Linked DNA regions of Homo sapiens. The protein of the gene in region 3 purifies or fractionates together with the protein of the main gene of each other region. This does not show direct contact. Each region holds a gene or a part of one and is shown on either strand. Other genes may lie near its edges.

Evidence for each region.
Region 1: the proteins of ARHGAP22 (region 3) and KDM6A purify together in Homo sapiens (affinity purification with mass spectrometry; 2 studies listed by BioGRID and IntAct, with this or other methods). This does not show direct contact.
Region 2: the proteins of ARHGAP22 (region 3) and RBM6 purify together in Homo sapiens (affinity purification with mass spectrometry, with the first as the bait; one large-scale study listed by BioGRID). This does not show direct contact.

The regions. Positions count from the first base shown.
Region 1 is NC_000023.11:44,876,138-44,879,788, reverse strand, and holds part of KDM6A (lysine-specific demethylase 6A), read right to left. Parts: intron 1-3,651. UniProt on the Homo sapiens protein: Histone demethylase that specifically demethylates 'Lys-27' of histone H3, thereby playing a central role in histone code. Demethylates trimethylated and dimethylated but not monomethylated H3 'Lys-27'.
Region 2 is NC_000003.12:49,943,147-49,946,797, forward strand, and holds part of RBM6 (RNA-binding protein 6), read left to right. Parts: intron 1-3,651. UniProt on the Homo sapiens protein: Specifically binds poly(G) RNA homopolymers in vitro.
Region 3 is NC_000010.11:48,448,070-48,451,720, reverse strand, and holds part of ARHGAP22 (rho GTPase-activating protein 22), read left to right. Parts: intron 1-113; coding exon of another isoform or gene 114-367; exon of another isoform or gene 368-580; coding exon 581-1,460; intron 1,461-3,651.

The DNA.
Region 1 (3,651 bases), on a different chromosome or scaffold from region 3:
ACAATCCCCATCTTTAAGAGCCATTCTAACTTGTGAATTGTTAAATTTACCTTTCTCATAAACTTTCAGAATATTTCACATTTTTCTTCTCCCAAAGATGGTCCTGTGTTAGTCACCCTTAAACTTATCTCACCCCTCTTAAAGAATTTAAGTTCAACACGGGCAAGAAATATCTATGCTATCTTCATACTATCTACATAGAAGGCTTGCACATAGTGTACATTAATATACTGTTTTAATTTACTGTCACGATAATTTACAAACCAATGTGGAAAACTGATAAAATTATATGTGAAGTTTCAATATGAGTACTTAAGACTGTCAATTATGCATTCATTAAATAAACTTTATTAATTAACTAATCTACAAATAATACATGTGAGTCCTAAACAGCCTAACCACCATTTCAATTCTTAGACAAGCTGGTAGTGTTTTCTTAACATAAATTAGCTCTCTAGATAACACATTTCAAAAATATTATTAATAATGCAGTGTTAGCAGTCATTAACATCAATTTCAAAGAGTTCAACGCATCACAATGAATTTCAAAGTAAAAATAAACTTAACAGAAATCCTTTCAAAGATGCAGAATATTGGTACTATGTAAACAAAAACTAAATGTTACATAATTTAAGTCAGAAAAAGACTTACTCTGCAGCTAGCCAAGCAATGAACTTTCATTTTGGTTTAAAGTGCATGACCTATCACTTCACCTAAGTCACAAAAATTCATCTCTCAGGCAGTTTTTCTTAACAGCTTAAGATATTGGCCAGGTGCGGCGGCTCACACCTGCAAAGCCAGCACTTTAGGAGGCCATGGTGGGCTGATCACGTGAGGTCAGGAGTTTGAGACCAGTCTGGCCAACACGGTGAAACCCCACCTCTAATAAAAACACAAAAATTAGCCGGGTGTGGTGGCAGGCACCTGTAATCCCAGCTACGCAAGAGGCTGAGGCATAAGAATCACTTGAACCTGGAAGACCGAGGTTGCAGTGAGCCGAGATCACTCTACTGCACTCCAGCCTGGGGGATAGTGTGAGACTGTCTCAAATTAAAAAAAAAAACAAAAAGTATCTAGAGGTGGCAGTCAAATGCTCTCTAGTTATTTCAATTTGTAATTGATTCGACAGAAAGAACTATTTACTGAAAAAGAAAACCAGAACTTTAAAAGTGCCTGTTTATGTATTGCTGCAGTTCTAATTTGTGACCAAATATGCAAATATGTTCTATAATCTTAGTATATCTTTATTACCAGGCACAAATCAAAACTTTAGGAAATACCAAGTATATAAGACTTTGTCCACGTAAAAAATTAAGACTGCAAGTGTTCAGAAGACAATCTTCCAAACTAGAAAACTCTTTAAAACACAAAGCATGACATTATTTCCATGGCTACTTTCTTTTTTTGTTTGTTTTTGTTTTTTGAGACAGGCTCTCATGACTTTTCTAACCAAAACACTAGCCATCTTTAGCACTGGAAATGAATTTACAGGTTGAGCATCCCTAATCTGAAAATCCAAAATCTAAAACTTTTTGGGTACCAACATGACACTCAAAGGAAATGCTCATTGGAGCATTTTGGAATTCAGATTTTCAGATTAGGGATGCTCAACTGGTATGTATTCTGCAAATATTCTGAAACCCAAAAAAATCCCAAATCCAAAACACATCTGGTTCCAAGCATTTTGGATAAAGGATACTCAACCTGTATGCCTTTAAGTGCCAGCAAACAAAAAACACACATAAATGAGAATGTTTTTAATCAACATCCAAATATTACAATTTAAAAAAGCCACCTCTAGAACTGACCTAATAATTTCCCCTACCAAACACGCCAGCAAACCAAATTTAAGAAAATATGTTTCAATGGATCTTAAACTACTTCTATTATCAAAAAAATTTAAAACACCAACTGTTTTAATGCTAATATGTCCTACGGAAAAAAGCACATACATTTTTAAGTGATATACAATCTATAACTTCTAAGTATTTTGTATAATCTTTCTACTAATAGAATTACCAAAAAAATTTCCAATAAGAGTATTTAAGAAAAACTTAAAAATAAGATACTTTGTTCAAAACTGTGTATTTTAGCAATAGTTCCCTGACGCAGATAAGATTCCCCAGTCCCCTAGCATTATTACTATAACTATACTTGGTAGTACTACTATATTTAAACTTACTACATTTATGGTATATATTCGTATATATTCTACTTTAACTCAAATCCTTACCCTACTTAAAAAAAAAAAAACCCAAAAGGTTTTCAAAAATGTACTAAAAAAGTCACAAGTTAATTTCTGTTAAAATATTTTGCTTAGTTTTCGATAACTCCACTGAAATTTTAAAAATAAGAATCTTGAATTATTACATTACCAGAAGATTAAGGGTCAGCATTCAAGAGCACTGTTCAAGATCACCCTATATCACAAGAACTCTAATTACGCAGGCTCTAGCTGTTTACAACCTTAAAGACATTACCAAAAAATAATACATTGTATTAACTACCTTATTTTTTTAATCCAAAACCCCAGGCATTGTATATCAAATGGCCATCCTACAAACAAAAAATTCTTTCAATGACTCTAATATAACTGAATCTGACAAAAACATTCGGGAGACGATGAGAAATCAGTGGTTTGAATAAACTGCACACCTGGAAAAGGAATACACATATAGATATGTACATACGTATACATACGCATATGCATATATATACATATATGTGTATACGCATATACATACGTATGTATATACATGTATATATGTATACACGTATACGTGTGTATATACGTATGCGTATACGTGTATATACGTATTCATATACGTGCGTATATACGTATACGTGTGTATATGCGTATATGTATATGTGTGTATACGTATATGTATACGTGTGTATATATGTATATGTACACGTGTGTATATATGTATACGTACATATGTTAAGGGACAAGTAAGAGACATATTTAATGCTTTCAACTTTCTAAAGCTTTTAGGTCAAGAGTTTTTTTTAACATACAAATGTGAATTTTAAAAACTTGAAAGAAAATCCAATAATATACATAGGAATAAGAATTTTTGAAAACAAGTAGTAATAGCTAAATTTCTGCCAGAAAGGAAAACGTTATACAAAGTGCAGACTAAATTGGGGCCGGGGGGTTGGGGGTGGGGGGGCATGGCAGGACAAAAATCAAAGCTAAAAAGGGAATTCTGGGAGTTATTCAATTCCATTATCTGCCCTCAGGTAAGTAGCCTAAACCTGCCCAGTAAAGGAAAGCCAACTCTTAAGACTTTCAGGGAATAAGAATTCTGAAACCAACATAGCTCAACATTCCACAAAAAATAAAAATAAAAAACAAAAAAATACTGCTTCGAGGACTGTTAAAAGAAGGATGAAACTAAATAATTCAAGACTTCCTACAGCAGGACTCCAGCTCATTCACTTCATTCAGAACCCAATTCAAACAGAGGGTGCGAAGTTATATAATGTCAGGCTTTACATTACACACCCCACTGGTATGTTCAGGCTCACAAAGATGCAACCAAGAACTATATGCGGTTGCAAGCACATATTACAGAAGGTTTTATTTTAATGTTAAGGCTGATGAATCTTGTCCTAAGCAGGTAGGACACCTCACAAGCACTGAGTCTG
Region 2 (3,651 bases), on a different chromosome or scaffold from region 3:
GCAGACACTTGGGTTGCTTCTGCCTTTTGACTATTGTAAATAATGATGCTGTGATCATTGGTGTACAAATATCTCTTTGAGTCCCTGCTTTGAATTCTTTTGGGTATATACCCAGAAGGGAAATTGCTATATGGTAATTATTATTATTATTAATTATTTTATTTATTTTTTTTTGAGACAGGGTCTTGCTCTGTTGCCCAGGCTGGAGTTCAGTGGCACAGTCATGGCTCACTGCAGCCTCGAACTCGAGCTCAAGCAGTCATCCCGCCTCAGCTTCCTGAGTAGCTGGGACTACAGGCATGGGCTGCCACAACCAGCTAATTTTTTTGTTTAATTTTTATTTTTTGTGATGAAGTCTTGCCTTGTTGTCTAGGGTGGTCTCGAACTCCTGAGTTCAAGTGATCCTCCTGTCTTGGCCTCCCGAAGTGCTGGCATTACAGGCATGAGCCACCACATCTGGCCCATAATTTTTTTATTTTAATTTTTTTGTGGAGACAGGGTCTCCCTATGTTGCCTATGCTGGTCTCAAACTCCTGGCCTCAAGCCATTTTCCCTCCTTGGCCTCTCAAGGTACTGGTATTACAGGCATGAGCCACTGCACCCAGTTGATACTTGGTTATTATATGTTTAGCTTTTTGAGGACCCACCATACTGTTTTCCTCAATGGCTGCATCGTTTTACATTCCCACCAGTAATACACAAGGGTTCCAATTTTCCCACATCCTCCCCAACACTTATTTTCTGTTTTTCCTTTTTTGATAAATTTGTGTGTGTATATGTGGTTTTTTATTTGTGTGTTTTGATGATAGCCACCCTAATGGGTGTGAAGTGGTATCTCGTTGTGTTTTCTTGGTTTTTGCTTGTTTGTACCTTTTTACCCATTTTTAAGTGTGCTACTTAGTAGTAGTAAGTACATTCTTCTTTTTGTGCAACCATAATAAAAATCCAGCTTCAGAACTTTTTTCATCTTCCCAAACTGAGTTTCTGTACCCATTGAATAGTAACTCCCTATTCTCTCCTCCCCTGACAATCACCATTCTGCTTTCTGTCTCTATGAATTTGACTACTCTAGGTATCTCATGTAAGTGGAATCATATAATATTTGATCTTTTGTGTATGGCTTATTTTACTTAGCATAATATCTTCAGGATTCATCCATCTTGTAGTATGTATCAGAATTTTATTCCTTTTTAAGGCTGAGTAATATTCCATTATACATATATACCACATTTTGTTTATCCATTTATCTATTGATGGACATTTGGGTTGTTTCCACCTTTTTGCTCTTGTGAATATAATGGTGCTATGAATATCAGTGTACAAATATCTTTTTTTTTTTTTTTTTTGTGAGACAGTATCGCTCTTGTCACCCAGGCTGGAGTGCAGTGGCGCGACCTTGGCTCACTGCAACCTCTGCCTCCTGGGTTCAAGGCATTCTCCTGCCTCAGCCTCCCGAGTAGCTGGGATTACAGATGTGCGCCACCATGCCTAGCTAATTTTTTTATTTTTAGTAGAGAAGGAGTTTCGCCATGTTGGGCAGGCTGGTCTTGAACTTCTGACCTCAGGTGATCAACCTGCCTCGGCCTCCCAAAGTGGTGGAATTACAGGTGTCAGCCACCGCGCCCAGCCACAAATATCAAGTCTTTACTTTCATTTCTTTTGGGAATATATATACTCAGAAATGGAATCGACAATTGACAGAGCAAATGGTAATTCTATGTGTAATTTTTTTTTAAATTTTTTTTTTTGAGACGGATTCTTGCTCTGTCGCCCAGGCTGGAGTGCAGTGGCGTGATCTCGGCTCACTCCAAGCTCCGCCTCCTGGGTTCTTGCCATTCTCCTGCCTCAGCCTCCCGAGTAGCTGGGACTACAGCATCCGCCACCACGCCCGGCTAATTTTTTGTATTTTTAGTAGAGACGGGGTTTCACCGTGTTAGCCAGGATAGTCTCCATCTCCTGACCTCATGATCTGCCCGCCTTGGCCTCCCAAAGTGCTGGGATTACAGGCGTGAGCCACCGCGCCCGGCCAATTTTTTTTTTTTTTTTTTTTAGACAGGGTCTTGCTCTGTTGTCCAGGCTGGAGTGCAGTGGTGCAGTCACAGTTCTCTGCAGCCCTGACCTTCTCAGTTCAAGCTATCCTCTCACCTCACCCTCTTAAGTAGCTGAGACTACAGGTGCATGCCACCATGCCTAACTAATTTTTTTATTTTTTTGTAGCTGTGGGATTTCGCTAGGTTGCCCAGGCTTTATGTATCATTTTTTGAGGAACTGCCTTACTGTTTTCCACACTGGTTGCACCATTTTACATTCTGTTAGCAGTGTACAAAGGTTTTGTTATAGACTGAATTGTGTCCCCCTGAAAATTCACGTGTTGAAGCCCTAAGCCCCAGTGTGACTGTATTTGGAAATAGGACCTTTACAGAGAAATTAAAAAGTTAGAAGATATCATAAGGGGCTGGGCGCGGGTGGCTCATGCCTGTAATCCCAGCACTTTGGGAGGCTGAGGCAGGCGGATCACAAGGTCAGGAGATCGAGACCATCCTGGCCAACACGGTGAAACCCCGTCTCTACTAAAAATACAAAACATTAACCGGGCGTGGCGGCATGCACCTGTAGTCCCAGCTGCTGGGGAGGCTGGGGCAGGAGAATGGCGTGAACCCGGGAGGCACAGCTTGCAGTGAGCCAAAATCGCGCCACTGCACTCCAGCCTGGGCGACAGAGCGAGACTCCATCTCAAAAAAAAAAAAAAAAAAAAAAAAAGAAGATATAAGGATGAGACCTTAATCCAGCAGGACTGCTGTCTTCGTAAGAAAAGGACTGGATACCAGGAGTGCGTGTACAGAGAGAAAAAGCTGCATGAGGACAGAGGTAGAAGGGGGCTGCCTGCAAGCCAAGGAGAGAGACCTCACCTAAAACAAACCTTGCTGACACCTTGATCTTGGACTCCCAGCCTCCAGAGCTGTGAGAATAATTTCTGTGGCTTAAGCCTTCCACTCCATGGTATTTTGTTATGGCAGTCCTAGCATACTGTGTAATATAGGTTTCAATTCAGTTTCTCTGCATCCTCCACATCCTGGCCAACACTTGTTATTTTCTTTCTTTTTTTTTTTTGGAGACAGATTCTCGCTCTGTCACGCAGGCTGGAGTGCAGTGGCACAATCTTGGCTCACTGCAACCTCCACCTCCCGGGTTCAAGCGATTCTCCTGCCTCAGCCTCCCGAGTAACTGGGATTACAGGCAGCCGCCACCGTGCCCAGCTAATTTTTGCATTTTAGTTGAGATGGTGTTTCTCCATGTTGGCCAGGCTGGTCTTGAACTCCTGACGTCAGGTGACCCGCCAGCCTTGGCCTCCCAAAGTGTTGGGATTATAAGCATGAGCCACCGCGCCTGGCATTTTCTTTTTTTTTGAGACAGAGTCTCACTCTGTTGCCCAGGCCGGAGTGAAGTGGCATGATCTCGGCTCACTGCAACCTCTGCCTCCCAGATTGAAGCAATTCTTGTGCCTCAGCCTCCCGGGTAGCTGGGATTACAGGCGTGTGCCACCACGCCTGGCTAATTTTTGTATTTTAGTAGAGACAGGGTTTCACCATATTAGCCAGGCTGGTCTTGAACTCCTGACCTCAAGTGATCTGTCCACCTTGGCCTCCCAAG
Region 3 (3,651 bases):
GTGTGGGACTTTGGGGGTGGATGGGGTGCATTGTACGTGTGATTGTGGGGGGTATTTTAGGGGGTGGGCGGGGTGCATTGTGTGTGCAATTGTATGTGTGTGCCCCCACACAGGAAAGATGGCTCTATTCCCTGTCCCAGAGCCCTATGCTCCCAGAGTGTGGACATTCAGGCATGGCAGTTGTCAGCAGCACAGAGGGGTGACGTGGGGCAGCCGAGAGAGTTCTGGCATCTCAGGTCCCAGGTTCCAGTTCCAACCTGCCACCTGCTCACCGTGCAGCCTTGGTGCCTGCTTCCTCACCCCACCCCAGCTGGAGGGCGTGAGCGCAGGCACAGTGCTTCCTCCCTGCTTGCGGCTCTGTGCCTGAGGAAGGCGGTTCTGCGGCCCCATCCTGCTGTCCTGCCTGGAGTTGGAGGGTGTGTGGTCCTTTCCTCTGGGCGGATGAAGGCTCCCTTGAGGGGCGGCCTGGCTCTGGGGACAGGGCCAGCTCCCACGAAGCTGCAGCTTCTCCATGACTGGCAGAGCGAGCCTGGGCCGAGTGGCTGGCAGCAAGGCCCTTCTCCGCCTCTCTTCCCGGCAGGCACTTCCCTCGTCCAGCACCTGATGACCGTCCTCATCCGCAAACACAGCCAGCTCTTCACGGCACCGGTCCCGGAAGGGCCCACCTCCCCGCGCGGGGGCCTGCAATGCGCAGTGGGGTGGGGCTCCGAGGAGGTCACCAGGGACAGCCAAGGAGAGCCCGGCGGCCCCGGCCTGCCCGCGCACAGGACCTCTTCCCTGGACGGGGCGGCCGTGGCGGTGCTCTCCAGAACAGCCCCCACGGGGCCGGGGAGCCGGTGCAGCCCTGGGAAGAAGGTGCAGACCCTGCCCAGTTGGAAGTCCTCCTTCCGGCAGCCGAGGTCCCTATCGGGAAGCCCGAAGGGGGGCGGCTCATCCCTGGAGGTGCCCATCATCTCCTCCGGCGGGAACTGGCTTATGAACGGGCTGTCCTCCCTGCGCGGACACCGCCGGGCCTCGTCGGGAGACCGGCTCAAGGACTCGGGCTCCGTGCAGAGACTCTCCACCTACGACAATGTGCCCGCGCCGGGCCTGGTCCCCGGCATACCCAGCGTGGCCAGTATGGCGTGGTCCGGGGCCTCGTCCAGCGAGTCGTCGGTGGGGGGCTCACTCAGCAGCTGCACGGCCTGCCGCGCCAGCGACTCGTCTGCCCGCAGTTCCCTGCACACCGACTGGGCCCTGGAGCCCTCCCCGCTCCCCAGCAGCAGCGAGGACCCCAAGTCCCTGGACCTGGACCACAGCATGGACGAGGCGGGCGCGGGTGCCAGCAACAGCGAGCCCAGCGAGCCGGACAGCCCCACCCGGGAACACGCGCGCCGCTCCGAGGCCTTACAGGGGCTGGTCACTGAGCTCAGGGCCGAGCTGTGCCGCCAGCGGACTGAGTACGAGAGGAGTGTGAAAAGGTAACTTGCTGCCCCGTGGAGCCTCCTGTGACGGGGCGGAGCCTGCAGGGAGAGCCGTGCTCTTGGCACATGGGCGTCGGCCCCTAACCTCTGGGCCGCTGGCCCTGGAAGCCAGCCTCAGAGAGGGGAATCCTAGCTCTGGGAAAGCCCTAGGACTGGCAGACTTGGCACACAGTCAGTCTGGCACGCAGTCAGTCTGGCACGCAGTCAGCGCTGCAGAGGCCTGCTGACTCCACGCAAGTGGGAATGCCTGCCCAGCCTGCCGGGGACCTTTGCTGCAGGGGTGGAAACAGAGTCAGTGTGCAGTCTGCAGCCAGGGAGGGGGCGGCCCCTGGAGGCAGGTCCCAGGCTTGTCCCAGTACAAGGGCTCATAGCCTGGATGCTGAGTGCCAGGAAGTGCCCAGGCCCCAGGTCAGCCAGGCTGGAAGTGAGGACCCCTTCCTTGATGGGATCAGAATCCAGTTTCCCTGCTGAACCAAGCCCTCGTGTCCGCCCTTGTCACAGGATGGTTGTGCTGCACCCTGAGGCTTACAATCTCACTAACAGAGGGCCAGAGTTCCAGCCTCCCATGAGGACCGGGGTTGCCCTCTGCAGTGAGGAACCTCAGCTCCTGGAGACCAGGTTCTCCAGCGCAGGGCGTTTCCCTCAGCATCTCAGACTCCTTGGTCCCTCTGGCTGCAGGTCCCCGTTAGCTGGCCGACCTGTTCACCTGGGTCCCACCCACTAGCAGGGAATTCCTTTATCCATTAGAGGCAGTGGATGGAGGTGGAAGGCATTCCTGCTGCCCACTCTGAGCCTGTGATTTCCACTGGGAGCTGGAATGGCAGCCCTTGCCCTTTTGCTCTGCTGACAGCTGTTCCCTGGGTGATGGAGAGTGCCAGGCATGTACAGGCACCATGTCTGCAAAAGGAAGAGAAGGAGAGGGACCTTGAGGGCAGAGGCCTCTGCCATGGGGGAAGTCACAGCAGGCAGTGCCTGAGCCAGGGCTGGAAGGACCCATAGGATGGAGCCGAGAAAGGAAATAGCATCAGTAGAACCCAAGGGCCTCCAGAAATATAGTAGAAGATGCTATCTGCTGCAGATGAGCTCACAGACCAAACTACAGGGTACATGGGAACTCTTACCATACAGAAGGCTGTCCATGCAGAAGGCTGGGCTGGACCAGCTGCGCCAGTTGTGTGCTGAGTGCCTGGAGCTCCTCTGGCCTGCTCTGAGGCCTGGTTTCTCAAGGGAGATGCAGGGCTCTTTGACTCCAGGTCAGACTACTTGGATTCTAGTCCCAGCTCCACCAGGGATTGGCTGAGTGTCCCTGGCAGGATCTTTGGGCCCCAGTGACCTCACCCATTTGTCCTGAGTATTAAGTGACTCACAGTGGATGAGAGCGCTCGGGAAACTTTGCTGCTCGCATTGACTCCTGCCTGGTGGCTGGAGGTAAGATGAGGTTCCCAGAGGAAAAGGGATAGCAGTGGTAGCCCTTGTGGAGGGACTGTACTCGCTAGCAGAGTGGTCTGGGTCGTTGTCTTGGTTAGAGGGAGGGTCTAGAGTGAGGAAGGTCTCTGAGCACAGGAAGGAAGGTGAGGGCATTAGCACCTGTCCTGTCCAGCAGGTGATTGGGGAATGTGTGTCCTGTTCTCTGGAAGTATGGGCCATCGGGTGGGGGGTGGGGTGAGGCTGGCCTTGTCCTGGCTCCCAGGACTCTGGTCAGAGCCCCTCCCCAGGGCCCTGCTGGGAAGTCAGCCTTCCTTCGTGCATTCCCAAAAGAGAACCTGTTTTCTGTGAAGTACCAGATGCTGTGCAGGTGGCCACAGTTGGGGTGAAAACTGATCAAAATCTCTGTCCCCATTCTTATTTGGGTTGCAGGGAGACAAAGACCATAAGCACGATACATTTTTAAAAATACACGGTGTGTTAAAAGGGAGATGAAGGAGGGGAACATAGAGCAGCATGGAGGGGAGCGGAGAGGAGCCTCAGGGTAGAAGGTTGGAGGGCCCTGGGAAGGAGACCCCAGAGCTGCAGCCAGCACTGACCCCAAGACCCCTGTAGTGGGGGAGAGTCAGGGGCTGGGGACTGGAGATGTGTGGGGAGGGGGCAATGGGTGGGGCCTTTTGGCCTGGGCAATGCTCTGGTTTTTCGTGGAGTGAGATGAGAATGAAGTGAGAAGCCGCTGGAGGGTCTTGGCACATTGGGCACT